Homo sapiens: one gene and its partners. The protein of the gene in region 3 purifies or fractionates together with the protein of the main gene of each other region. This does not show direct contact. Each region holds a gene or a part of one and is shown on either strand. Other genes may lie near its edges. The genes, in order: EXOSC1, AICDA, EXOSC10, CTNNA1, MAP3K14, HNRNPR and UPF2.

Region 1 (3,500 bases), on a different chromosome or scaffold from region 3:
AAAAAGAATCAAAAATTGCCGGGCATGGTGGCTCATGCTTGTAATCCCAGCACTTTGGGAGGCCGAGGTGGGCAGATCACCTGTGGTCAGGAGTTCAAGACCAGCCTGGCCAATCATGGCCAACATGGTGAAACCCTGTCTCTACCAAAAATACAAAAATTAGCTTAGCGTGGTGGTGCATGCCTGTAATCCCAGCTACTCGGGAGGCTGAGGCAGGAGAAGTGCTTGAACCCAGGAGGTGGAGGTTGCAGTGAGCCTGCGTCACAGCAGTCCAGCCTGGGCAACAGAGTGAGACTCCGTCTCAAAAAAAAAGAAGAAGAAGAATAAAAAATTAGCCAGGCATGGTAGCACATGCTTGTGGTCCCAACTACTTGGGAGGCTGAAGCAGGAAGATCGCTTGGGCCCAGGGGGTTGAGGCTGCAGTGAGCCATGATCACTCCAGCTTGGGTAACAGGGCAAGACTCTGTCTCTCAAGAAAAAAATAAAATTGATTTCCTTAGTCACATTAGCCACATTTCAAGTACTCAATAGCCACTTGTGGCTAGTGGTTGCTATACTGGTCAGCACATGACTTTTCTGTCATCACAGAAAGTTTTACTGGACTGTGCAGGCTTACAGATTTCTAGGATAATAATCAAGGCAGCCAAGTTCAGGCATGCATAGTTCCTTCACTGAGCTGATTCCCTGAATACATAGTTCTACCTGTGTCTGGGAAACAGGGATGCCAGAGGATGATTAGGAGGCCTATTTTTGAACATCTGAAGCTGAGTTCTTTTTCTGCAGAGAAGCAAAAGACTTTATTTTTTGCCATTCCTGTTTTTTTTTTTTTGAGACAGGGCCTTGCTCTGTCACCCAGGCTGGAGTGCAGTGGCACGATCTCGGCTCACTGCAGCCTCTGGCCTCTTGGGTTCAAGCAATTCTACTGCCTCTGCCTCCCGAGTAGCTGGGATTATAGGCATGTGCTGCCACGCCTGGCTAATTTTTGTATTTTTAGTACAGGTGGGGTTTTACCATGTTGGCCAGGCTGGTCCTGAACTCCTGACCTCAAGTGATGCGCCCACCTCAGCCTCCCAAAGTGCTGGGATTACAGGCATGAGCCACTGTGTCCAGCCTCTTTTTTTTTTTTTTTTTTAATTGTTAGCCATCTATACTTTAAAAAGTCTATACCTCTCTGAAGGGCAAGTTGTGAAAAGATTTAAAAAAAAAAAAAAAAACCCAGCCGGATGCAGTGGCTTACACCTGTAATCCCAGCACTTTGGGAGGCTGAAGCAGGCGAATCACCTGAGATCAGGAGTTCGAGACCAGCCTGACCAACATGGAGAAACCCTGTCTCTACTAGAAATACAAAATTAGCTGGGCATGGTGGTGCATGCCTGTAATCCCAGCTATTCAGGAGGCTAAGGCAGGAGAATTATTTGAACCCAGGAGGCGGAGGTTGCGGTGAGCCAAGATCGCGCCATTGCACTCCAGCCTGGGCAACAAGAGTGAAACTCCGTCTCAAAAAAAAAAAAAAAAAAAAACCCATACCACCTTTGTTTCCCATAGTAACTCTACCAGGTGGCCAGAGTGGCTCTTATTCCTCTTTACATGTGTCACTTACGCAGAGAGAAGTAGGAGTTAATTTGTCTTAAATTCTCTACTTAGTAGGGTTGCTTGCACTGAAGCCCTAGTAATCCCCAGTTTATTGCTGCCTCCTTGAGCTGACAACTGCTTATACTCTGATGCTGATCTTTTCTCTATTCCGCAGGTCTCTAGCATCAATTCACGCTTTGCCAAAGTACACATCCTGTATGTGGGGTCCATGCCTCTTAAGAACTCTTTTCGAGGAACTATCCGGTAAGAAGTATCCTTTTCACATATACCTTAGCAACTGGAATAAGATTAGGATAGACTAGGACACCAGAATTTTGAGCAACAGTTACAATTCCTATTTTTCTTTTGCCCGTTTTTCTTTCTTCTTTGTGCTTTGATTCTCCCCTAGTAGTATCCAAAAAATACATGGATGATCTAGGACAAAAGGAAAATATTAACGAGAGGGTTTAAAAGTAAAGCAAAGGCTGGGCGCGGTGGCTCACGCCTGTTATCCTAGCACTTTGAGAAGCTGAGGCGGGTGGATCTCTTGAGATCAGGAGTTTGAGACCAGCCTAGCCAACATGGTGAAACCCCATCTCTGTAAAAAATACAAAAATTAGCCAGGCACAGTGGCTCACACCTGTAATCCTATCACTTTGGGAGGCTGAGGTGGGTGGATCACAAAGTCAGGGGTTTGAGACCAGCCTGGCCAGTGTGGTGAAACCCTGTCTCTACTAAAAATACAAAAACTAGCCGGACATGTTGGCGTGTGCCTGTAATCCCAGCTGCTCAGGAGGCTGAAGCCAAAGAATCGCTTGAACCCAGGAGGCAGAGGTTGCAGTGAGCCAAGATTGCGCCATTGCACTCCAGCCTGGGGGACAGAGCGAGACTCTGTCTTTAAAAAAAAAAAAAAAAAAAATTAGCTGGGCATGGTGGTGCGTGCCTGTACTCCCAGCTACTTGTGGAGCTGAAGCAGGAAGATCACTTGAGCCTAGGAGGCAGAGGTTGCAGTGAGCTGAGATTGCACCACTGCACTCTAGCCTGGGCAACAGAGTGAGACCCTGTCTCAAAAAACAAATAAATAAATAAAAGGTAAAGCAAAAAGAATTGAGTGAAGCTGAAGTTTAGCAGTGTCAGGATGACTCAAACCAAAGTAGAAGGCAGGCTGGGCGTGGTGGCTCATGCCTGTAATCCCAGCACTTTGGGAGGCCGAGGCGGGCGGATCACCTGAGGTCGGGAGTTCGAGACCAGCCTGACCAACATGGAGAAACACCGTCTCTACTAAAAATACAAAATTAGCCAGGCGTGGTGGCACATGCCTATAATCCCAGCTACTAGGGAGGCTGAGGCAGGAGAATCACTTGAACCTGGGAGGCGGAGCTTGCGGTGAGCCAAGATCGTGCCATTGTACTCCAGCCTGGGCAACAAGAGTGAAACTCCGTCTCAAAAAAAAAAAAAAAAAAAGTAGAAGGCATTTTAGGAAGCACTTTAAAATTTAATATAGATTGAACTCAGAGGTTATAAAACATTGAAAAGATTTGTGGGTGAGATGGTGATTTCGTGTGGCTTCCTTGAGAAAGGACAAACATTTCTTGCCAGGCAGATAATCTAACTTTTGAGGCCCTTTCCAGCCTCAGGATTTGATGTGGTTCTGTAGTGCAGCAGTCCCCAACCTTTTTGGCACCAGGGACCAGTTTCTTGGAAGACAGTTTTTCCACAGACCATGGAGGGGGTGGTTGCAGAATGATTCAAGTGCATTACATTTATGGTGCACTTTATTTCTGTTATTATTACACTGTAATATATAATGAAATAATTATACAGCTCACCATAATATAGAATCAGCGGGAGCCCTGAGTTTGTTTCCCTGCAATTCGATGGTCCCATCTGGGGGTGATGGGAGACAGTGACAGATCATCAGGCATTAG
Region 2 (4,082 bases), on a different chromosome or scaffold from region 3:
ACCCAGTGGGAGGTAGTTGAACAATGGGGGTGGGTCTTTCCCATGCTGTTCTCATGATAGTGAATAAGTCTCACAAGATCTGATGGTTTTATAAAGGGATTTCCCCCTGCGTGAGCTCTCTCTTGCCTACCACCATGTAAGATGTCCCTTGCTCTTCTGCCATGATTGTGAGGCCTCCCCAGCCATGTGGAACTGTGAGTCAACTAAACCTCTTTCCTTTATAAATTACCCAGTCTCAGGCATGTCTTTATTAGCAGTGTGAGAACAGACGAATACATGGTCCAAGCTAGGGCTATTGATTTGAAAATCATCAAGGTATAGATGGTATCAAAGGCTTGAGGCAGGAAGAGAGCAGAGACCCTAGCTGCATTGCTTAGCATTGCATCCCTAGCACCTGGCATAGTTTCCATTAACAGTAGGCATGAAGTATCTACTCAGTGAATAAATAGAATGCATATGGGCTACAGTAGGAGAGAGAAATAAAATCTTTAATAGACCAAGTTCTATGAGAGCACAAAATTAAAGTCTTTTATTTGAAGATCTTAGCCTGTTTTCCAAATTCAGTGCAGCCAGTTAGACACTGAATCTGTCTGGTGAAACAAGCATTTTTGTATTTTGGGGGACTGCTGCTGCTTCTGACTCCAAATTAAGGATTTTTTTTTTTTCTAAAAAAGATGGCTCATGCAAAAATCACTCTTTGGTGTAAATATCTAGTCTTCAAGCAATTCTTGTAATGCAATCAGAAAGAAAAAAATCCATGGTTTGGGAGGCAAAATTTTTGTGTTCTAAATTCTATATAACTGAGTTCATTTGCTTAACTGCAAAGCAGGAGCTGCTAGTGCCTGTCTGTACTGAGGTTCAGAGAGACTGTGGGAATATGGGGGAATTAGAGGCTATCTGAGGCTCTTCAACACAATAACCCAAGAAGCTATTTAAATGCTCTTTAAGGTATTTACATAAATATTACTATTCTCATTGTGCTTTTATTTTGTGTTATCATGATTATAATTGAAGTGTCTACTGTTACTGCCTCCTGATCTTTGCTAGCTATGGAGCATGGACTGGGCTTTTAGAGCAGCAGCCCCAAAGGAACCTAAACATTAAAGCAGAGCTGCCCTCAATGGTTTAACCTGTGTGACTCTGCCTATGACAGCCCCACCCACCCATCTTCACTGGATCCAAATCAGGAGCAAGGCCGTTGGGGTACCTGGTGGGGGTGATGCTGTCAGGGGAGGAGCCCAAAAGGGCAAGCTCAAATTTGAATGTGAAGGGCCAATGCACTGTCAGACTAAGACAGAGAACCATCATTAATTGAAGTGAGATTTTTCTGGCCTGAGACTTGCAGGGAGGCAAGAAGACACTCTGGACACCACTATGGACAGGTAAAGAGGCAGTCTTCTCGTGGGTGATTGCACTGGCCTTCCTCTCAGAGCAAATCTGAGTAATGAGACTGGTAGCTATCCCTTTCTCTCATGTAACTGTCTGACTGATAAGATCAGCTTGATCAATATGCATATATATTTTTTGATCTGTCTCCTTTTCTTCTATTCAGATCTTATACGCTGTCAGCCCAATTCTTTCTGTTTCAGACTTCTCTTGATTTCCCTCTTTTTCATGTGGCAAAAGAAGTAGTGCGTACAATGTACTGATTCGTCCTGAGATTTGTACCATGGTTGAAACTAATTTATGGTAATAATATTAACATAGCAAATCTTTAGAGACTCAAATCATGAAAAGGTAATAGCAGTACTGTACTAAAAACGGTAGTGCTAATTTTCGTAATAATTTTGTAAATATTCAACAGTAAAACAACTTGAAGACACACTTTCCTAGGGAGGCGTTACTGAAATAATTTAGCTATAGTAAGAAAATTTGTAATTTTAGAAATGCCAAGCATTCTAAATTAATTGCTTGAAAGTCACTATGATTGTGTCCATTATAAGGAGACAAATTCATTCAAGCAAGTTATTTAATGTTAAAGGCCCAATTGTTAGGCAGTTAATGGCACTTTTACTATTAACTAATCTTTCCATTTGTTCAGACGTAGCTTAACTTACCTCTTAGGTGTGAATTTGGTTAAGGTCCTCATAATGTCTTTATGTGCAGTTTTTGATAGGTTATTGTCATAGAACTTATTCTATTCCTACATTTATGATTACTATGGATGTATGAGAATAACACCTAATCCTTATACTTTACCTCAATTTAACTCCTTTATAAAGAACTTACATTACAGAATAAAGATTTTTTAAAAATATATTTTTTTGTAGAGACAGGGTCTTAGCCCAGCCGAGGCTGGTCTCTAAGTCCTGGCCCAAGCGATCCTCCTGCCTGGGCCTCCTAAAGTGCTGGAATTATAGACATGAGCCATCACATCCAATATACAGAATAAAGATTTTTAATGGAGGATTTAATGTTCTTCAGAAAATTTTCTTGAGGTCAGACAATGTCAAATGTCTCCTCAGTTTACACTGAGATTTTGAAAACAAGTCTGAGCTATAGGTCCTTGTGAAGGGTCCATTGGAAATACTTGTTCAAAGTAAAATGGAAAGCAAAGGTAAAATCAGCAGTTGAAATTCAGAGAAAGACAGAAAAGGAGAAAAGATGAAATTCAACAGGACAGAAGGGAAATATATTATCATTAAGGAGGACAGTATCTGTAGAGCTCATTAGTGATGGCAAAATGACTTGGTCAGGATTATTTTTAACCCGCTTGTTTCTGGTTTGCACGGCTGGGGATGCAGCTAGGGTTCTGCCTCAGGGAGCACAGCTGTCCAGAGCAGCTGTCAGCCTGCAAGCCTGAAACACTCCCTCGGTAAAGTCCTTCCTACTCAGGACAGAAATGACGAGAACAGGGAGCTGGAAACAGGCCCCTAACCAGAGAAGGGAAGTAATGGATCAACAAAGTTAACTAGCAGGTCAGGATCACGCAATTCATTTCACTCTGACTGGTAACATGTGACAGAAACAGTGTAGGCTTATTGTATTTTCATGTAGAGTAGGACCCAAAAATCCACCCAAAGTCCTTTATCTATGCCACATCCTTCTTATCTATACTTCCAGGACACTTTTTCTTCCTTATGATAAGGCTCTCTCTCTCTCCACACACACACACACACACACACACACACACACACACACACACACAAACACACACCCCGCCAACCAAGGTGCATGTAAAAAGATGTAGATTCCTCTGCCTTTCTCATCTACACAGCCCAGGAGGGTAAGTTAATATAAGAGGGATTTATTGGTAAGAGATGATGCTTAATCTGTTTAACACTGGGCCTCAAAGAGAGAATTTCTTTTCTTCTGTACTTATTAAGCACCTATTATGTGTTGAGCTTATATATACAAAGGGTTATTATATGCTAATATAGTAATAGTAATGGTGGTTGGTACTATGGTAATTACCATAAAAATTATTATCCTTTTAAAATAAAGCTAATTATTATTGGATCTTTTTTAGTATTCATTTTATGTTTTTTATGTTTTTGATTTTTTAAAAGACAATCTCACCCTGTTACCCAGGCTGGAGTGCAGTGGTGCAATCATAGCTTTCTGCAGTCTTGAACTCCTGGGCTCAAGCAATCCTCCTGCCTTGGCCTCCCAAAGTGTTGGGATACAGTCATGAGCCACTGCATCTGGCCTAGGATCCATTTAGATTAAAATATGCATTTTAAATTTTAAAATAATATGGCTAATTTTTACCTTATGTAATGTGTATACTGGCAATAAATCTAGTTTGCTGCCTAAAGTTTAAAGTGCTTTCCAGTAAGCTTCATGTACGTGAGGGGAGACATTTAAAGTGAAACAGACAGCCAGGTGTGGTGGCTCACGCCTGTAATCCCAGCACTCTGGGAGGCTGAGGTGGGTGGATCGCTTGAGCCCTGGAGTTCAAGACCAGCCTGAGCAACATGGCAAAACGCTGTTTCTATAACAAAAATTAGCCGGGCATGGTGGCATGTGCCTGTGGTCCCAGCTACTAGGGGGCTGAGGCAGGAGAATCGTTGGAGCCCAGGAGGTCAAGGCTGCACTGAGCAGTGCTTGCGCCACTGCACTCCAGCCTGGGTGACAGGACC
Region 3 (3,500 bases):
CGTCTGCTTTAAAGTGCAAAATAGATGAGGACTCCCTGCAGTTTCATTCTAAATAGTGTACTTCTATATTTAATGTATGCAGTCCAGGGACTTCTTAGTTATTTTAGTGGCCACATTACACTGTTAAATCATATTAGAATTTTCAGCCCAATTCAGAGCTTTAAAGAGTCAATCGAGTATTGGGCATGGGTAATTACTGTCCTACCTGCCTTTGAGCAAATAATGCATTAATTACTTGGCATGACATACTAATGACCTTTATTGATCAACTTTGTAAAATTTTTATTTTTTTATTGACAAAAATTGTATAGGCGATCATTTACATGGTTATGTCTCAATAAACCTATATTATAAGTCAAAAATGCATTTAATACACCTCACTTACCAAATAGCTTAACTGAACCTGCTTTAAATGTGCTCAGAAAACTTCCATTAGTCTACAGTTGGGCAAAATCTTACACAAAGCCTATTTTTATAATACAGTGTTGAATATTCATCTCATGTAATTCAAGTAGCATTGAATACACTTCTGAAAGTGAAAAACAGGTTGTGGCCGGGCACAGTAGCTCATGCCTGTAATCCTAGCATTTTGGGAGGCCAAGGCAGGTGGATCACTTGAGGTCAAGAGTTCAAGACCAGCTTGGTCAACATAGTGAAACCCCATCTCTACTAAAAAATACAAAAATTAGCTGGGCGTGGTGGCGTGCACCTGTAGTCCCAGATACTCGGGAGGCTGAGGCATGAGAATTGCTTGAACCCAGGAGGCGAAGACTGCAGCAAGCTGAGATTGGACCACTGCACTCCAGCCTGGGCAACAGAGTGAGACTCCCTCTCAAAAAAAAAAAAAAGAAAAACAGGGCCAGGCACAGTGGCTTACGCCTGTAATCCTAGCACTTTGGGAGGTCGAGGCAGGCAGCTCACAAGGTCAAGAGATCGAGACCATCCTGGCCAACCTGGTGAAACCCTGTCTCTACTAAAAATACAAAAATTAGCTGGGCGTGGTGGTGCATGCCTGTAGTCCCAATTACTTGGGAGGCTGAGGCAGGAGAATCGCTTGAACCCGGGAGGCAGGTTGCAATTAGCTGAGATCACGCCATTACACTTCAGCCTGGCAACAGAGCAAGACTCTGTCTCAAAAAAGAAAAAAGAAAAACAGGTGGTAAGTGTACTTGAAATATGGATTCTACTAAATGCAAATCACTTTCACATCATTGTAAACTCAAAAACTTACAAGTCAAACTGTCATACATTGGGGACCATCTATATATTTATTACATACAACTTGATGTTTTGATACATACATTGATCTGTTCTTATATATGTATATTTTCTTACACAAATGTCTCTGAATACCAATCTCTTTAAAATGTTAGGTAATTAGGTGGGGCACGGTGGCTCACGCCTATAATCCCAGCATTTTGGGAGGCTCAGGTGGGCGGATCACTTGAGGTCAGGAGTTCGAGACCAGCCTGGCCAACCGGGTGAAACCCCATCTCTACTAAAAATAAAAAATTAGCCAGGTATGGTGGTGCACACCTGTAATCCCAGCTACTCGGGAGGCTGAGGCAGGAGAATCGCTTGAACCCTGGAGGCAGAGGTTGCAGTGAGCCCAATTCAGAACTGTAAAGAGTTGCAGTGAGGCAAGATTGCGCCACTGCACTCCAGCCTGGGTGACAGAGTGATACTCCATGTTAAATAAATAAAATGTTAGGTAGTTAACTCTGCTAACCTCAAAAGGAAAAATGCTTAACCAGTACCTCTTCTACTCTTAGGGTATTTTACTGGATGAAGCCTCAGGTGTAAACAAGAATCAACAGCCTGTCCTCCCTGCCGGCTTGCAGGTCCCCAAAACGGTAGTGTCCAGCTGGAACCGTAAGGTGAGGGCTTTTCAGATTAACTAGAGCTCTTGATGTCAGCTTCATAACAGAGATTTTGCTCATTCTAACATGCATTTCTGTTCTAATTTATTAGAGAACTGGCCACTGTCTCCTTTAGTTTGTTCTCATAAACATACACAAACTAATTACACCCTCTTCTTCTCTTTCTGGAGACCTCTACATGCACATACATTCTTAAATGAATGAATGACCTTTGCGATGTTCTTGTCTCCTCAGAAGTCATAAATTGGAATTTACTTTTCTAATTCATCAAGTTGCTGTGTTATAAAGTATTTGTATTCATTGATCATAGGCAGCAGAATATGGCAAAAAAGCAAAATCTGAAACTTTCCGGCTGCTTCATGCAAAAAATATCATCCGACCTCAGCTCAAGTTTCGAGAGAAGATTGACAATTCCAACACACCATTTCTTCCTAAAATCTTCATCAAACCCAATGCTCAGAAACCTCTCCCTCAAGGTAAATAGTGCATACTTTGCCTGTGTTTGAGTCTCACTTTATTTGATGCAAAAACCAGGAAGGGTGTACAGGTCTCTCTTCTTTGTTCAAAGGGAGCCCACCCTCCTTTGTTCAAAGGGAGCCCAGTTCAGCTATTCCAGAGGCTGAAGTGGGAGGATCACTTGAGCCCAGGAGGTCAAGGCTACAGTGAGCTGTGCTTGTGCCACCACACTTCAGCCTGGGGGACAGAACATGACCCTGTCTCAAAAAAAAAAGCCAAAAAACAAAGGGAACCAGTTTACCCCTGTGTAATTAGAAAAGACATGAATGTGCTAATGATGTTTTTGTCACTGCTGGGATCCCCAGCTCTCTCTAAGGAAAGGCGGGAACGCCCACAGGATCGTCCTGAGGACTTGGACGTCCCCCCTGCACTGGCTGATTTCATCCATCAGCAGAGAACCCAGCAGGTTGAGCAAGACATGTAAGTGTTGGCCTGTGTCTGACTTTCTGCCGTGAGTACTTACCTTTTTGCCACATTTTCACTTTTGTGGAGTATATACATGAAAACAATCTGAGGAGTAGTGATTTCCTCCTTACACCCCAACCTGGGCCTTAGCAATAAAACCTGCTGTTTGTGTTCACAAAGGGCCTACACAGCATTGCCTCATGTAAACCTCACTGCAGTCCTGAGAAGTAGCAGTTGCTCTTATTCCCATTTTATAGATGTAAAACACGAAGGCTGGGCGCGGTGGCTTACGCCTGTAATCCCAGCACTTTGGGAGGCTGAGACCGGTGGATCACCTGAGGTCAGGAGTTCGAGACCAGCCTGGCCAACATGGTGAAACCCCATCTCTACTGAAAATACAAAAATTAGCCAGGCGAGGTGGTGTGTGCCTGTAATCCCAGCTACTCGGGAGGCTGAGGCAGGAGAATCGCTTGAACTTGGGAGGTGGAGGTTGCAGTGAGCCAAGATGGCGTCACTGCACTCCAGCCTGAGTGATAGAGTAAGACTCCATCTCAAAAAAAAAAAAAAAAAAAGATGTAAAAGCAAAATTAGAGATGCAGGCTTCTTGTAGAGTTGGAACTTCTTTGAGACAGGGTCTTGCTCTGTCGCCCAGACTGGAGTGTGGTGGCATGAACACAGCTCACTACAGCCTTTACCTCC
Region 4 (3,500 bases), on a different chromosome or scaffold from region 3:
AAGATCAGTCTCCCCACCTAGACAATTACACTGGCATAATTAGTCAGATGTAATTCTGGGGACTGTTGAAGAAAGCTTGCAACTTCCAAGGAAAGACTGGGACAGTAAATTGGGTTAATTTCAGTCAATTTCAGCCCTTAGCTGAGCAGCAGCTACCCCATTCCCTAGCCCCCAGCCACGGGCAGACAACCTACAATGCATTCCTGAAACAGCTTGCAAGCAGCTTTTGGGAACCAGGATGGGTAATAAGGACCCTGTCCTCCAAATATTAGGGATCCGTATTCTAATTGCTGATTGCTGCTTATAATCAGGGATAGGCAGACACTGAGAAGGATAGCCATTATTGCACCCCCTCCATGACTGCAAGTCCTCCCCCTCCAGCTGAAGTAGACTTCCAGGAAATTTAATGGGCCAAGGGCCCCCACCTCCCTACTTCCTTCATTTTTCTCTTTTTCCTCTTTAGGAGCTAGACTTTAAAGACTAGGATATTCAAAAGCAATCATGAGGGTGCGGGGGAGATAAGGAAAAAAGTTACCATGGTGCATGCGCCCAGGGAAAGGTGCAGGCTCAAAAAAGACCTGAGAAGTCCTTAAGTTTGTATCTCAGGCTGATCCTCAGCATAAAAACAAACTGTAACAAATAAACAAAAAAATCCAGCAAACCCTGGGAATGAGAAGAGTCCAATTTTCAGAGTTAGCACATCATTAGATTCAAATGTCCAGTTTTCAAAAAAAAATTAAAAAGTCCCAGGTCATACAAAGATACAGGAAAGTATGACCCATTAAAAGAAAAAAAAAATTAACCAATAAAAACTGTCCCAGTTGCTGGGCACGGTGGCTCATGCCTGTAATCCCAGTACTTTGGGAAGCCAAGGCTGGCTGATCACCTGAGGTCAGGAGTTCAAGACCAGCCTGACCAACATGGAGAATCCCTGTCTCTACTTAAAATACAAAATTAGCCAGGTGTGGTGGCGCATGCCTGTAATCCCAGCTACTCAAGAGGCTGAGGCAGGAGAATCGCTTAAAGCCAGGAGGCAGTGCAGTGAGCCAAGATCACGCCATTGCACTCCAGTCCGGGCAACGAGAGCAAAACTCCATCTCAAAAAAAAAACAAAAACTGTCCCAGAGAAAGACCAGATGGAAGACCTACTAGACAAAGACATTAAAACAACTGTCTTACAGATGTTCAAAAAACTAAAGGAAGGTATGGGAAAAATCAAGAAAATAATGTATTTTAAAAATAAAAATATCAGCCGGGTGTGGTGGCTCACACCTGTAATCCCAGCACCTTGGGAGGCCGAGGTGGGCAGATCACGAGGTCAAGAGATCAAGACTATCCTGGCCAACATGGTGAAATGCCATCTCTACTAAAAATACAAAAATTAGCTGGGCGTGGTGGCATGTGCCTGTAGTCCAGCTATTTGCGAGGCTGAGGCAGGAGAATCACTTGAACACGGGAGGCAGAGGTTGCAGTGAGCCAAGATCGTGCCACTGCACTCCAGCCTGGTGACAGAGCGAGACTCCGTCTCAACAACAACAACAAACAAACAAAAAAAGTTAGCCGGGTGTGGTGGCAGGCGCCTGCAGTCCCAGCTACTAGGGAGGCTGAGGCAGGAGAACGGCATGAACCCGGGAGGCGGAGGTTGCAGGGAGCCAAGATCGCACCACTGCACTCCAGCCTGGGTGACAGAGCAAGACTCCATCTCAAAAAAAAATAAAAATAAATAAAATAAATAAAATTAAAATACCAGATTAGCCAGGTGTGGTGGCACATGCCTGTAATCCCAGCTACTTGGGAGGCTGAGGCAGAAGAATCACTTGAACCCAGGAGACAGAGGTTGCAGTGAGCCGACATCACGCCATTGCACTCCAGCCTGGGCAACAAGAGCAAAACTCCATCTCAAAAAAAAAAGAAATAGGAGAAAAAAAGAATATATTACACATAAGCTGAGGACTGCATGGAGAGGATTTCATCAGTGATTAGATCTGGGTGGCAAGGAAGAAGAATGGGCTGTAGATGGTTCTCAGTTTGCCCAAATTTGTTATTGGAGGCCCTCCATAATCTGACTGTTGCCTCATCTGTTATCATTCCATCCACAAGCTAGACTCCAGGCAGAAAAGACTTTTTCCTCCTTCACTCAACAAGCATCTAATTTGCCCTCCATGCCAGGTACTAAGCACCAAGACAAGAACTAAGACTCTCAGTTCCTGCCTTCAAGGAGCTTACAAGGCTCCCTTCCTAGCAGTAAAGGCAAACAGGTACATCAATAATAACGTACAGCATAATGTAATGCACCACCCAGTGCTAAAAAATTTGCTACCAGAAACGAAAGTGCTGAGTCTTAAGATATGACTAAAAGCTCATCATGAAAGGTTATGTTGGGAGAGTAGAAGGGAATCACTGAGGAAGCAACTTTACCCTAGGCCCCCAACATCCAGTCCATTTTCTTTTTTTCTGAGTCAGGGTCTCACTGTGTTGCCCAGGCTGGAGTGCAGGGGCATGATCATAGTTCACAGCAGCCTTGAACTGTTTTTAAATACTGTATGCCTCAGCGGCATTACATATATTCACGATCCATTTCCAGAACTTTTTTCATCTTCCCAAACCGAACTCTGTACCCATAACAATAGCTCCCTATTCCCCTTCACCTGGCCCCTAACAACCACCATTCTGTTTTCTTTCTTTCTCCTTCCTTCCTCCCTCCCTTCCTCCCTTTTTTTCTTTTGTTTGAGACAGGGTCTCACTCTGTCACCCAGGCTGCAGTGTGACATGATCAGAGCTCACTGCAACCTCCACCTCCCAAGCTCAAGCAATGAATCCTACCACCTCAGCCTCCTGAGTAGCTGGGACTACAGAGCGTGTCACCATGCCTGGTTGATTTTTTTTTTTTTAGAGGCGGGGTCTCATAAAGTTGCTCAGGCTGGTCTTGAACTCCTAGCTTCAAGTGATCCTCCCAACTCAGCCTCCCAAAAAAACAGGATTATAGGCATGAGCCTCCCTGTCCAGCCCCAATCCATATTTAAGTCCTGTCTCATTTCTCCAAAATACAGCTCCCTTCATCCCTACCACCTCGTACTCCACCATCTTCCTAGCTCAACTCTCTGCTTCCACATGCACACAAACACAAGCCTTCTCCAAGCACTAGCAGGAGTCTTAAAAAGGAAATCAAATCATGAAACTCCCTACAATGGCTTCTTACACCTCTAGAATAAAACCCCAACATGGCCTCTGCCTTCTCTGGCAATCTCATGTGAGGTCTTCTCCCCACTGAAAAAGTACCCAAGCTATACAAGTCTTCTCTCAAGTCTCTAAACACACGGAGTCTTTCCTGTCTCAGGACCTCTACAAATGCAGAGGGCCCTGTTCCTTCTCTCCATATTCTCACCAGCACACAACACTACCCCCAACAATCAGGGCTGTCTGTTATGCCCCACAGTGAGTTACGTTCTCAAAGAAATCCGAAAGTGCGGTGGCTCACACCTGTAATCCCAGCACTTTAG
Region 5 (3,500 bases), on a different chromosome or scaffold from region 3:
CAAAGAATTATTGTAGCCAAAATCTACCACCCACCTTCTACTGACATTAAAGTTTCCTTTTACTGGGCCAGAATTAAAAGGTAGGTGTTTCTGGTCCATACTAGGGATAGCCAGGAGGGTTGGGAGGAAAAGGAGGCTTAGCCAGCCTCCAATGAGGATGTGGTTGCCAGTTAAGATTATAAATGGAGGCTGGGCACGGTGGCTCGTGCCTGTAATCCCAGTGCTTTGGGAGGCTGAGGCGGGCGGATCACAAGGTCAAGAGATTGAGACCATCCTGGCCAACATGGTGAAACCCCATCTCTACTAAAAATACAAAAAAGTTAGCTGGGCATGGTGGCACATGCCTGTAATCCCAGCTACTCGGGAGGCTGGGGTAGGAGAATCACTTGAACCTGGGAGGTGGAGGTTGCAGTGAGCCAAGATCCACCATTGCACTCCAGCCTGGGCGACAAGAGCGAAACTCCGTCTCAAAAAAAAAAAAAAAAAAAAAAAAGATGGACTCCTTTGGCCAAGGGAGTTGATTGGACCCACCAGACTCCTTGAGTCCTGCCCAACAGTCTCCACTGGCAGATGCTGTGCCTGGAGAGGCAGGAATAGCTTTGTATAGATCAATGTGAAGGACAGAGTCCTGCACCACCTCCCTCTAGCATGTATTAGATACTTGCAAATATATGCAAATCCGAGCCCAGATGGGTGTTGTCCAGTTCAGAAGGGTTATCTTCTCAAGCAATTAGAAGTAATTGGGTCTCTAGGTCAGCATTTAGGAAAGGGGATGGCAGGAGAGGCTCCACAGCCATCTTTCAGGACACCTGCTTGCTGGGGTGCAGTTAGAATACAGCCACCAAGTTGTGACTCCCTCCCTTCCAGCCTGCCAGGTGATTGGACAGTGTGGACACGTGTCCCTGTCCAGCCAGGCTCTCAGAGCCTGTGGCACTCATTTATTCCTCAGAAGTGTGTCTGTCCTTTCACTCAGGAACATTTGCCAAGTGTGTCAAATGGGCCATGTCTGCTAGGTGCTAGAAAACCAAACACAATTGAGGCACCGCCCTGGAGGACCTCACCAAGACAGGGGTAAGCTGGGCACGAAGGCAGACATCTCACAGGTCAACCCCGGTGCTGGTCAGGAGCCATGACTATAGGAGCTGGAGGGAGCGAGGAGGCCACCATGCGCAGCCCAGTGGCCCTCCTTTTCCAGCCTGAGCCAGCACTGTCAGGCGTAGAGCGTCTCGGATTCTGCAGGTGCCTGGGTGGGAACACCTTGGTATTTCTCTCACCCTGGGGTCTTGTACCACTTGTCAGCTTGGAGCGGGAGCTTGGTAACAGTTGGGCAACTTCAGCACTCTGGGGGAAAGAAGTGCATTTTCAGAAGCGTAGGGACAGTCAGGAGAAATTTGCTCAAATGTTGCTTGGGCACAGTGGCTCATGCCTGTAATCCCAATGACTTGGGAGGCTAAGGCAGGAGGATTGCCTTTTAGGCCAAGAACTGGAGACCAGCCTGGACAACATAGTGAGATCCACCTCCAAAAAAAAAATTTTTTTAAACTAGCTGGACATTGCCAGGCGCAGTGGCTCACACCTGTAATCCCAGCACTTCGGGAGGCCAAGACAGGCAGACCACTTGAGGCCAGGAGGTCAAGACCAGCCTGGCCAACATGGTGAGACCCGTCTCTACTAAAAATACAAAAATTAGCCAGGTGTGTTGGTGGGCACTTGTAATCCCAGCTACTCGGGAGGCTGAGGCACAAGAATCACTTGAACCTGGGAGGCAGAGGTTGCAATGAGCCATGATCGCACCACTGCACCCCAGCCTGGGCGACAGAGCAAGACTCTGTCAAAAAAAAAAAAAAAAGATTAGCTGGGCATGGTGGTGCTTACCTGTAGTCCAGCTACTTCAGAGGCTGAGGTGGGATGATCACTTGAGCTCAGGAGTTCGAGGCTGTAGTAAGCTATGGTTGTACCACTGCATTCCAGCCTGGGTGACAGAACAAGTCCTCTTCTCAAAAAAGAAAATATAGTTCAAAGTAGAATCAGACAGTGAGTAGCCAGCTAATAAACACATAACTGACCACCTCCCACCCCTCCAAGTGAGAATTGGGAGGGCAGTGACCACACTGGCACATCCCATAGGCTTGGTGCCACTAGAGAGTTGTAGGCAGGTAGATCAAGGCAGTGCTTCTAGGTAACTGGGTTCAGCATTCCAAGAAGGCCTTTCAAGGGTTTCAACAGAGAAGGCTCTTGGTCATCCTCATATTCCTGCTGGCCAGCACGGTGCCTGAAACATGGTAGCCACTGATTAAATATTTGCTGTTGAGTGAAAGTACAAGACTTGAATCCAAACTCCTCCCGCTAAGCCCTGCTGGCCTCGGGGAGGACGAGAGAGCCGTGGGCTGTTTCATGATTTACCCTCTTTTACCAAAGAATCGTGTGAGATCCTCTGAGAATATTCCTCATCATGCCCCATGTCCCAAGCCCTTTTTTACCTTCCCAAGGGAGGACAAGAATATGACCCCTCATTATAAAGGGACCCCTCTGCCACTCATGTCCTCAAGCTGGTTACTTGGTCCAGCTTGTCAAAGAGCATGTGGGGCAGCATCTGAAATGAGGCCAGGGTCAAGGTTGCCCCGCCACAGGGCGGAGCTGGACCTGTGCCTCCTTCCATGCATTGGAAGCCTTCTGTGGAAGCTGAGTTCTTTGGGTTTCTTGTTTATTCTGAAGTTCCTCAAACTAGTTCCTCAATTTCAGAACCAGTCACCAGTGACTACAATGAACTTGAATTCTCCTATACAGGGAGCCTGAGCCTGTCTTTCTTCATCTTTTCTGAACACAGGTAGACGCTGCTTGAAGCCACTCCCACCTCTGAAAACCAGATTTCTAAACCCAGAAAGGAGCGGTGGGTGGTTGTATTTCAGCGAGATTGACCGTAGCCTAGGGAACTTCTTGCTCAGAATCCACCCCAAAAGGTTAAATAAGGAGAGTTGTTTTTCACAACCAAAATGCTGCTTGTAACGATGATCTCAAAGCTTGGCAAGATCACAAAGTACGTTTTGAGTCATCAAAGAAACTGGCTGTGTTTCACATGATTTTAGTGTCAAGGGCAATTATGGCCATCTAATCTTTGGAAATTGGTCATGTTAAGTGGCATACAGGGCAGCCCCCACTTAATCAGAATATTCAGTTACACAAAATACCCTAAGTTGCTGATTTCGATGACACTTGAAATTTTTTTAATTAATTAATTAATTAATTTTTTTTTTTAATTTTTTGAGACAGAGTCTCACTCTGTTGCCTAGGTTGGAGTGCAGTGGCACAATCTCGGCTCACTGCAACCTCCACCTCCCGGGTTCAAGCGATTCTTGTGCCTCAGCCTCCCGAGTAGCTGGGATTACAGGCACCCACCACCACACCCAGCTAATTTTTGTATTTCTAGTGGAGGCAGCGTTTTGCCATGTTGGCCAGGCTGGTCTCGATCTCACAACCTCAGGCAGTCCGCCCGCCTGGGC
Region 6 (3,500 bases), about 12 Mb from region 3:
AGCTAGTAAAAAATCAAAATAAAAACTCAGAGCTATTTAAATTCTCTATCCCTTTCCTAGACACCCATCTACTCAAGGAATATGAGATAAAAGATACTGAGTAGCACTTCTGAGAGCCTCTCTGGTTCATTCTGAATAGAACTTATCTGATTAACCCAAAGATGTCACTGCCAACCCAGACTTTATACAAGTATAAACCAGAGTTCTCCTCCAAACTACTTAGAACGAGGGTTTGCCTCCTCAAATTCTGGAATAAAAACCTTGACTTCTGACTTATCAAGAAGAATCCAACCATTAACTCATGGCCATTCAGAGTTGCTGCCTCCCTGTGAAGGGAAGAGACAACTAAAATGCTCAAGAGCTCATTGCAAGCAGCAGAAATGCAACTCTGAGGCCGGGCGCAGTGGCTCACACCTGTAACCCCAGCACTTTGGGAGGCCGAGGCGGGCGGTTCACAGGGTCAGGAGATGGACACCACCCTGGCTAACATGGTGAAACCCCGTCTCTACTAAAAATACAAAAAATTAGCCAGCTGTGGTGGCGGGCACCTGTAGTCCCAGCTACTTGGGAGGCTGAGGCAGGAGAATGGCGTGAACCCAGGAGGCAGAGCTTGCCGTGAGTGGAGATCGCGCCACTGCACTCCAGCCTGGGACAAAGCAAGACTCCATCTCAAAAAAAAAGAAATGCAACTCTGATGTGTCCCAGGAGTCGCCCAAAGGAAAACTTAAGAACCAGTACTCAAGGCACCACTATTAAGATCCTGGCAACGCAAGTACAGGAATCAGGAGGGAATTGAGGGCCCTTTACAGGACTTGCCATGCATATTTTGCCACTAACAAATAAGAGCAAACATGACAATCTTTTGCCTTTCTTCATGGGGACAATACACTAAGGGAATCTGATCATTTAAAAACAAGAGGCGGGGCACGGTGGCTCATGCCTTAATCCCAGCACTTTGGGAGGCCAAGGCGGGTAGATCATGAGCTTAGGAGTTCGAGACCAGCCTGCAATATGGTGAAATGCTGTCTCTACTAAAAATACAAAATTTAGCCGGGCATGGTGGCAGGCGCCTGTAGTCCCAGCTACTTGGGAGGCTGAGGAAGGAGAATCGCTTGAACCTGGGAGGTGGAGGTTGCAGTGAGCCGAGATCGTACCACTGCACTCCAGCCTGGGCAACACAGCAAGACTCTGTCTCAAAAAATAATAATAATAAATAAAATATTTTTAAAAATAAAAACTACAAAAAAAGCTTAAAAAAAGAAAAATTAGCTATAAATCTAAATAAAACATAATTCATGGCCAAGTAATAAAGTCATAATATAGTCAATGAAGATTATAACTTATAATCTCCAAAACATTACTTCTCTCTTTACTCAGGACTTTTAAAAAAAAAAAAAACCTCTATCCCTCACAGTGCCTAGCACTAAACAAACACCCAGTGTGTATGGGACTACTTAATTGAAGGAATTTCATTTCAGTTCCTTTTGCACATTTAATCTGCAGGAAAAGGGATTGTTAATGGAAATTCCTGGATACCAAGACAGGCTGTTAACTTTAGTGTTAAAGCCGCTCCTTGCCAAACAGTTGAAGTCTAAAGCTACAATTTCTATTTATCATAAAACTCAAAATATTTGAGCTTTATTCTGAGTACAAAATTTAAATGATGACCCTATGCCCATTCCAAGCAACTGTATTTACCTTAGCCATGACTTCTGGATCTGGTTCTTCCACAGGGTCAGCCCATTCAACTGTAACTACATTTCCCCACACTTTTACTTTTCCACTCATCAGCCGGCGTCTGGCTTGTGCTGCTGACTTGTGATCCTCATATTCAAGGAAGCAGAACCCCCGATTCTTCTTTTTGTCATCGGGTTGATGATAGAGAATAACGTCCACCAAACCCTCTGTTAAACCAACAGCCAGATATATAAGCCAAAAGCATCCACCACACATCTAGCGATTAGGCAGACCTAAATCCACTTGACGATGAGCAAAATATAAGTGAAGCAGCCTCAACATGAGTCACTAATTTTGTAGACAATTAGATCAACATAATTAGATATGGGGTTTGGGACAGTATTTGATGTTCCTTTTTAATTTTAGGGGTTCTGAAGGTACAGCCATATACAACAAATCTACTATATTCTGACATTTAACATGCTACAATGTTTTAGAGCGTTTGATATAACATGACTTTATTAAAGCACTAACAAGGATCTTAAAAACAAAATTAGTAATATAAACCCAAGAGAACTAACTTTTGACAACTAATCATGGCCAAAAATCTTCCTTGAAGCTAACTTAAAAGTTACTATTTTTACCAAGAATGGAAGTGATCACTAAATATTAGTGTTCCTCTGGTCTTAGTCCTTTGCCCTTATCTCTCCGTATGTGTTCTTTCTAAATAATGTCAGCTAGCCCTACTTTTAAATGTTACCTATACCCTTATAAATACTTAGATTTTTTTCCTACCCCAGACTTCTCTAAGCTCTAGATGTGCCTACGTTCTTACCCGATGTATCCTCTTTGATGTCTTAGACATTGCAAATTTAACTTTTCCAAAACTGAACCACCATGGCCAAAATCTGCCTTCCCTAGACTTCCTATCTAATAAACAGTGCCATCCACCTGGTTCTGAAGCCAGAAATTGGTTAGCCATTCTTGATTTCTTCCTTCATCTCTCCTATCCAATTCCAAACTCATTTACTTCTTTCTATCTCCACTGCTATTACCCTAGTCTAATCCTGTATCTGTACTAGTATGACAGCTTCAACTAATTTATCAGCTTCCACTCACACCCCTTCTCTCCAAGCCCCTATCCACAGAGCGCTAGGAATAATATCCCATAAACAAGAAATAGGTGTTATTTCCTGCTTAAAACCTTTAAATACCTTCTCATTATATATACAATAAAAACCCAACTCCTTACATGGCCTACAGAAGCCCTGCCTACTTCATTTCATACAACTCTACTCCTAATTCTACCTTTTAATAATACTGGCCTCCTCAGTTACTGTAATATACTGACTTCTTTCTTGCCTTGGAACCTTGGCACGTGTTGCTGTCTTGGAATGCACTTCCTTTTGCTCTTTGTATGCTACAACCTCTTCATCCTTCAGGTGCTGGTTGACATGTCATCTTATCAGAAAAGTCTTCCAAAACCATGGAAACAGGGATAGTAGCTATTCTCTAGCTAAATATCCTGTATTTCCTGCTTCAGTGTCTTATCACAATGTCTAAATATTCCTTTAATTTTTATTTTTTATATTCTTGGTCTTATCTCCTTTCTCAGGATATAGGATCTATGAAAGCAGAGAATATGTCTCTTAGCCATCAGTGTATCCCAGGCACATAGCACAATGCCAGCACTTAACAGGAACTTTAATAAACACCTGCTGAAAGAATGAATAAATGATCATGAAGCCAGAAGGAGCTATAGATAATAAAGTGATGAGGTCAAAGAACTGTGCCAGCAGTTGACAACACAATACTTGACAACA
Region 7 (3,500 bases), on a different chromosome or scaffold from region 3:
TGATGGCAGAGAAAATAGGTTAAGGGTAGAATTACATTTTAACTGTTTTAGAAACAATTCATGTAATGATAGCTAAATTTAATACCTAACATGTTCTTTTTATGAAAACACTTTAAAGATAGCCATTTCCTAGAGAGAGAAAAGGACACCTAGAAGTAACCAGTTTATTAGAAAAGATCTGTCATTTCTCTATTCAGTGTTCTTTCAGTAATAGATATTTTCAAGTTACAGAGACAAGTTTAACCTGTTTTCATATACACTACTCCTCTTTAATGAAAATCTGTGGTTTTGTTGCCTTTTAGGTTAATCAACCTAAATTTAATCAGAGGCGCATCAGCAGTGCCAAGTTCTTAGGAGAACTTTACAATTACCGAATGGTGGAATCAGCTGTTATTTTCAGAACTCTGTATTCTTTTACCTCATTTGGTGTTAATCCTGATGGCTCTCCAAGTTCCCTGGACCCACCTGAGCATCTTTTCAGAATTAGACTCGTATGCACTATTCTGGACACATGTGGCCAGTACTTTGACAGAGGTTCCAGTAAACGAAAACTTGATTGTTTCCTTGTATATTTTCAGGTATATAAGCTGAAATATTCAGTTTGGCATCATTTAACATATTGCATGTGTTTTAAAAGAATACTATGAGAGAAGAAACGTTATGGTATTCATATATTATATATATGTTCATAATTAGATTATATTCTTCATATAAGAATGCTTTTGGAAATTTAAAGATATATGATGGATTCTATTGTATGAACATTCTCATTGCATATAACTTTTATGATTGATAATGATTGGTCATTAATTTTGGGAGTTGTTTTCATACAGTTTATAAATTTGGTTCAGTAATTTATGGACCGTGATATTTAATACAGTAATTTATTGATTAAATTACTTGTGATTTGTAATACATTTGTTAATGTTCTCTTCTCACTCATGTATATTCTGGTTTACATCTCAAATTCTTGTTTCTTTCTTTTTTTTTTTTTTAAATAGAAATGGGGTCTTGCTATGTTGGCCAGGTTGGTCTTGCACTCCTAGCCTCAAGTAAACCTCCCGCGTCAGCCTCCCAAAGTGTTAGGATTACAGGCATGAACCATCGCGCCCAGCCCAAATTCTTGTTTCTAAAAGATATATATATGTATATATATATATATATATTTTTTTTTTTGAGAGTAAGTCTTGCTGTGTCATCCAGGCTGGAGTGCAGTGGTGCAATCTCAGCTCACTGCAGCCTCCACCTCTCAGGTTCAAGCAATTCTCCTGCCTCAGCCTCCAGAGTACCTGGGATTACAGGTGTACTCCACCACACCCGGCTAATTTTTGTATTTTTGGTAGAGAGGGGGTTTCACCATGTTGGTTAGGCTGGTCTTGAACTCCTGACCTCAGGTGATCTGCCCACCTCGGCCTCCCAACGTTCTGGGATTAACAGGCGTGAGTCACTGTGCCCAGCCTAATTTTTTTTTAAAAAAAGAAAACCTATCATTTTTGAGGAAAATGTGTTATTTTTAATACAGTAAGAATATTTGTTCATTTATTTGTAAATTCTTGGGTTGTGTTTTCCATATCTTAATGTTGGGTTATTATATAAACTTGTGATTTAGACCAAGCACAATATAAATTAAATTCATATACAAATACAGGGACAGTACTACAACCTCTATAAAGTTTGTATTTCAGAGGTTAACTTATAGGTTGATTAGTTGGAGCCCAATTACTATTTCCCATAAAATACAATTTTCTAAGTGCCAATTAGGGTGAACAACTCACTATCAAGTGCTTTAAGTTTTACTAAGTGGTGATAGTACCATTCGATTCTATATAATCACAATTGTTAGTATTTTCATTTACCCATTATGAAGAAAATAAGTTTAATGTAACTTGAAGTATCAAAAATACATCCACATGGTGGCGTGTGTTAAGTTGGGGGTAAATATTCTTCGGGAATTGCGGTCTGTTAGCTTGCTCCTACCGCTATTCTTTTGCAGTAGAGGGAAACCTATTACTCCCTTACTTTCTGAATTGATGAGCAAAAAGTGGGGAAAAGGACTTGCAGATTTGAGGGTTGCAGTCCCTGTTGTATGTAAGGACCATCTTAAGTTGGATACTGTATTAAAAGCCAGAGTTTTGCTGCAAAATGGCAGCTATAACAGCATCCAAAGTAGAATCTCTCTCAGAAGAGAATCCTTTCGATTCACTCTGACATCTTAGGCTGAGAGAAAAGAAACACTCAGAAATATTCAGGAGCCAAAAGAGACAAAAATATTTTCCAAACTGATTAACAGACAAAAATGTGTAACAGAGCCATACCTAGGAATTGGAGTCAGAAGTGAGTGAGGCCTGGGTGATGAGGTCTGTGTGTTTCACCCAGAACATGGAGTGTACAGTTTAGTATTAGAAGGTCAGGAAGAAAGGATCCCCTGGAGCAGTGCTTTTAAACTTTCCTGTGCATCCATGTCCCCTGGGGACTTTGTAAAGATGCAGATTCTGATTCAGTTGACCTAGGGGGAGGCCTGAGATTCTACATTTCTAAGAAGCTCCCAGATGAGGTCCACACTTGGAGTAGCAAGGACCTGGAACAAACTGGAGAGGAAGAGTAAAACTCCCAGAGGAATACCTGTTCATATACTAGTAAATTCTTGGGTTGTGCTTTCAGTTAATGTAAATTTAGGAATTAAAACAAGTATAAAATAGAATGTGGGAACCAGGCTTGGAGTAGAGAGGGAAAATATCCACACCATGCCATATACACAGTAGATATTCAATAAATGCTTGTTGATGATTAGTGATTTTTATATATTTCAAAAACCGTATTTTCAGATACTTTAACTCTTCAAAAATCAAAGCAAGTAGCACAGAGAAAATAATGAACATTATCACAACGATGGCTTTGAATTTGGTTAAATTTGTAAAATTAAATATAGGAAATCAGTGCCTTGTTTTGGAGTACCTAAAAATTTATTTGGTATTTTATTTATAATATTTCCTTGCCTTAAAAAAACTGTGACAGTTATAATAAAAAGATATCTAGGGCCGGGCGCAGTGGCTCACACCTGTAATCCCAGCACTTTGGGAGGCCAAGGCGGGCGGATCACGAGGTCAGGAGATTGAGAACATCCTGGCTAACACAGTGAAACCCCGTCTCCACTAAAAATATTAAAAAGTAGCCGGGCGTGGTGGCATGCACCTGTAGTCCCAGCTGCTCGGGAGGCTGAGGCAGGAGAATGGCGTGAACCTGGGAGGCGGAGCTTGCAGTGAGCTGAGATGGCGCCACTGCACTCCAGACTGGGTGACAGAGCGAGACTCCATCTCAAAAAAAAAAAAAAAAAAAAAAAGATATTTAGTAAATTCACCAAATAGCTCAAGACCTGTATAGACAGAGGGAAATGATTGGAATAGGATCATTGCTGTTGACCATTAATAGAAATGGTAAGTGTCTTTTATAACCTTTCAGCTTAGTAGTTATAACTGGGAAACAGCACAATATAGTTTATT

The links.
Region 1: the proteins of EXOSC10 (region 3) and EXOSC1 purify together in Homo sapiens (co-immunoprecipitation; 9 studies listed by BioGRID and IntAct, with this or other methods). This does not show direct contact.
Region 2: the proteins of EXOSC10 (region 3) and AICDA purify together in Homo sapiens (affinity purification with western blotting; 2 studies listed by BioGRID, with this or other methods). This does not show direct contact.
Region 4: the proteins of EXOSC10 (region 3) and CTNNA1 purify together in Homo sapiens (co-immunoprecipitation; one large-scale study listed by IntAct). This does not show direct contact.
Region 5: the proteins of EXOSC10 (region 3) and MAP3K14 purify together in Homo sapiens (tandem affinity purification; one large-scale study listed by IntAct). This does not show direct contact.
Region 6: the proteins of EXOSC10 (region 3) and HNRNPR fractionate together in Homo sapiens (co-fractionation; one large-scale study listed by BioGRID). This does not show direct contact.
Region 7: the proteins of EXOSC10 (region 3) and UPF2 purify together in Homo sapiens (affinity purification with western blotting; 2 studies listed by BioGRID, with this or other methods). This does not show direct contact.

The regions. Positions count from the first base shown.
Region 1 is NC_000010.11:97,439,507-97,443,006, reverse strand, and holds part of EXOSC1 (exosome complex component CSL4), read left to right. Parts: intron 1-1,747; coding exon 1,748-1,836; intron 1,837-3,500. UniProt on the Homo sapiens protein: Non-catalytic component of the RNA exosome complex which has 3'->5' exoribonuclease activity and participates in a multitude of cellular RNA processing and degradation events.
Region 2 is NC_000012.12:8,610,060-8,614,141, reverse strand, and holds the start of AICDA (single-stranded DNA cytosine deaminase), read left to right. Parts: upstream 1-1,282; 5' UTR 1,283-1,374; coding exon 1,375-1,382; intron 1,383-4,082. UniProt on the Homo sapiens protein: Single-stranded DNA-specific cytidine deaminase. Involved in somatic hypermutation (SHM), gene conversion, and class-switch recombination (CSR) in B-lymphocytes by deaminating C to U during transcription of Ig-variable (V) and Ig-switch (S) region DNA.
Region 3 is NC_000001.11:11,089,870-11,093,369, reverse strand, and holds part of EXOSC10 (exosome complex component 10), read left to right. Parts: intron 1-1,772; coding exon 1,773-1,877; intron 1,878-2,190; coding exon 2,191-2,356; intron 2,357-2,701; coding exon 2,702-2,816; intron 2,817-3,500. UniProt on the Homo sapiens protein: Catalytic component of the RNA exosome complex which has 3'->5' exoribonuclease activity and participates in a multitude of cellular RNA processing and degradation events.
Region 4 is NC_000005.10:138,756,425-138,759,924, reverse strand, and holds part of CTNNA1 (catenin alpha-1), read right to left. Parts: intron 1-3,500. UniProt on the Homo sapiens protein: Associates with the cytoplasmic domain of a variety of cadherins. The association of catenins to cadherins produces a complex which is linked to the actin filament network, and which seems to be of primary importance for cadherins cell-adhesion properties.
Region 5 is NC_000017.11:45,307,021-45,310,520, reverse strand, and holds part of MAP3K14 (mitogen-activated protein kinase kinase kinase 14), read left to right. Parts: intron 1-3,500.
Region 6 is NC_000001.11:23,316,785-23,320,284, forward strand, and holds part of HNRNPR (heterogeneous nuclear ribonucleoprotein R), read right to left. Parts: intron 1,914-3,500; coding exon of another isoform or gene 1,905-1,913; coding exon 1,699-1,904; intron 1-1,698. UniProt on the Homo sapiens protein: Component of ribonucleosomes, which are complexes of at least 20 other different heterogeneous nuclear ribonucleoproteins (hnRNP). hnRNP play an important role in processing of precursor mRNA in the nucleus.
Region 7 is NC_000010.11:11,952,310-11,955,809, reverse strand, and holds part of UPF2 (regulator of nonsense transcripts 2), read left to right. Parts: intron 1-302; coding exon 303-578; intron 579-3,500. UniProt on the Homo sapiens protein: Involved in nonsense-mediated decay (NMD) of mRNAs containing premature stop codons by associating with the nuclear exon junction complex (EJC).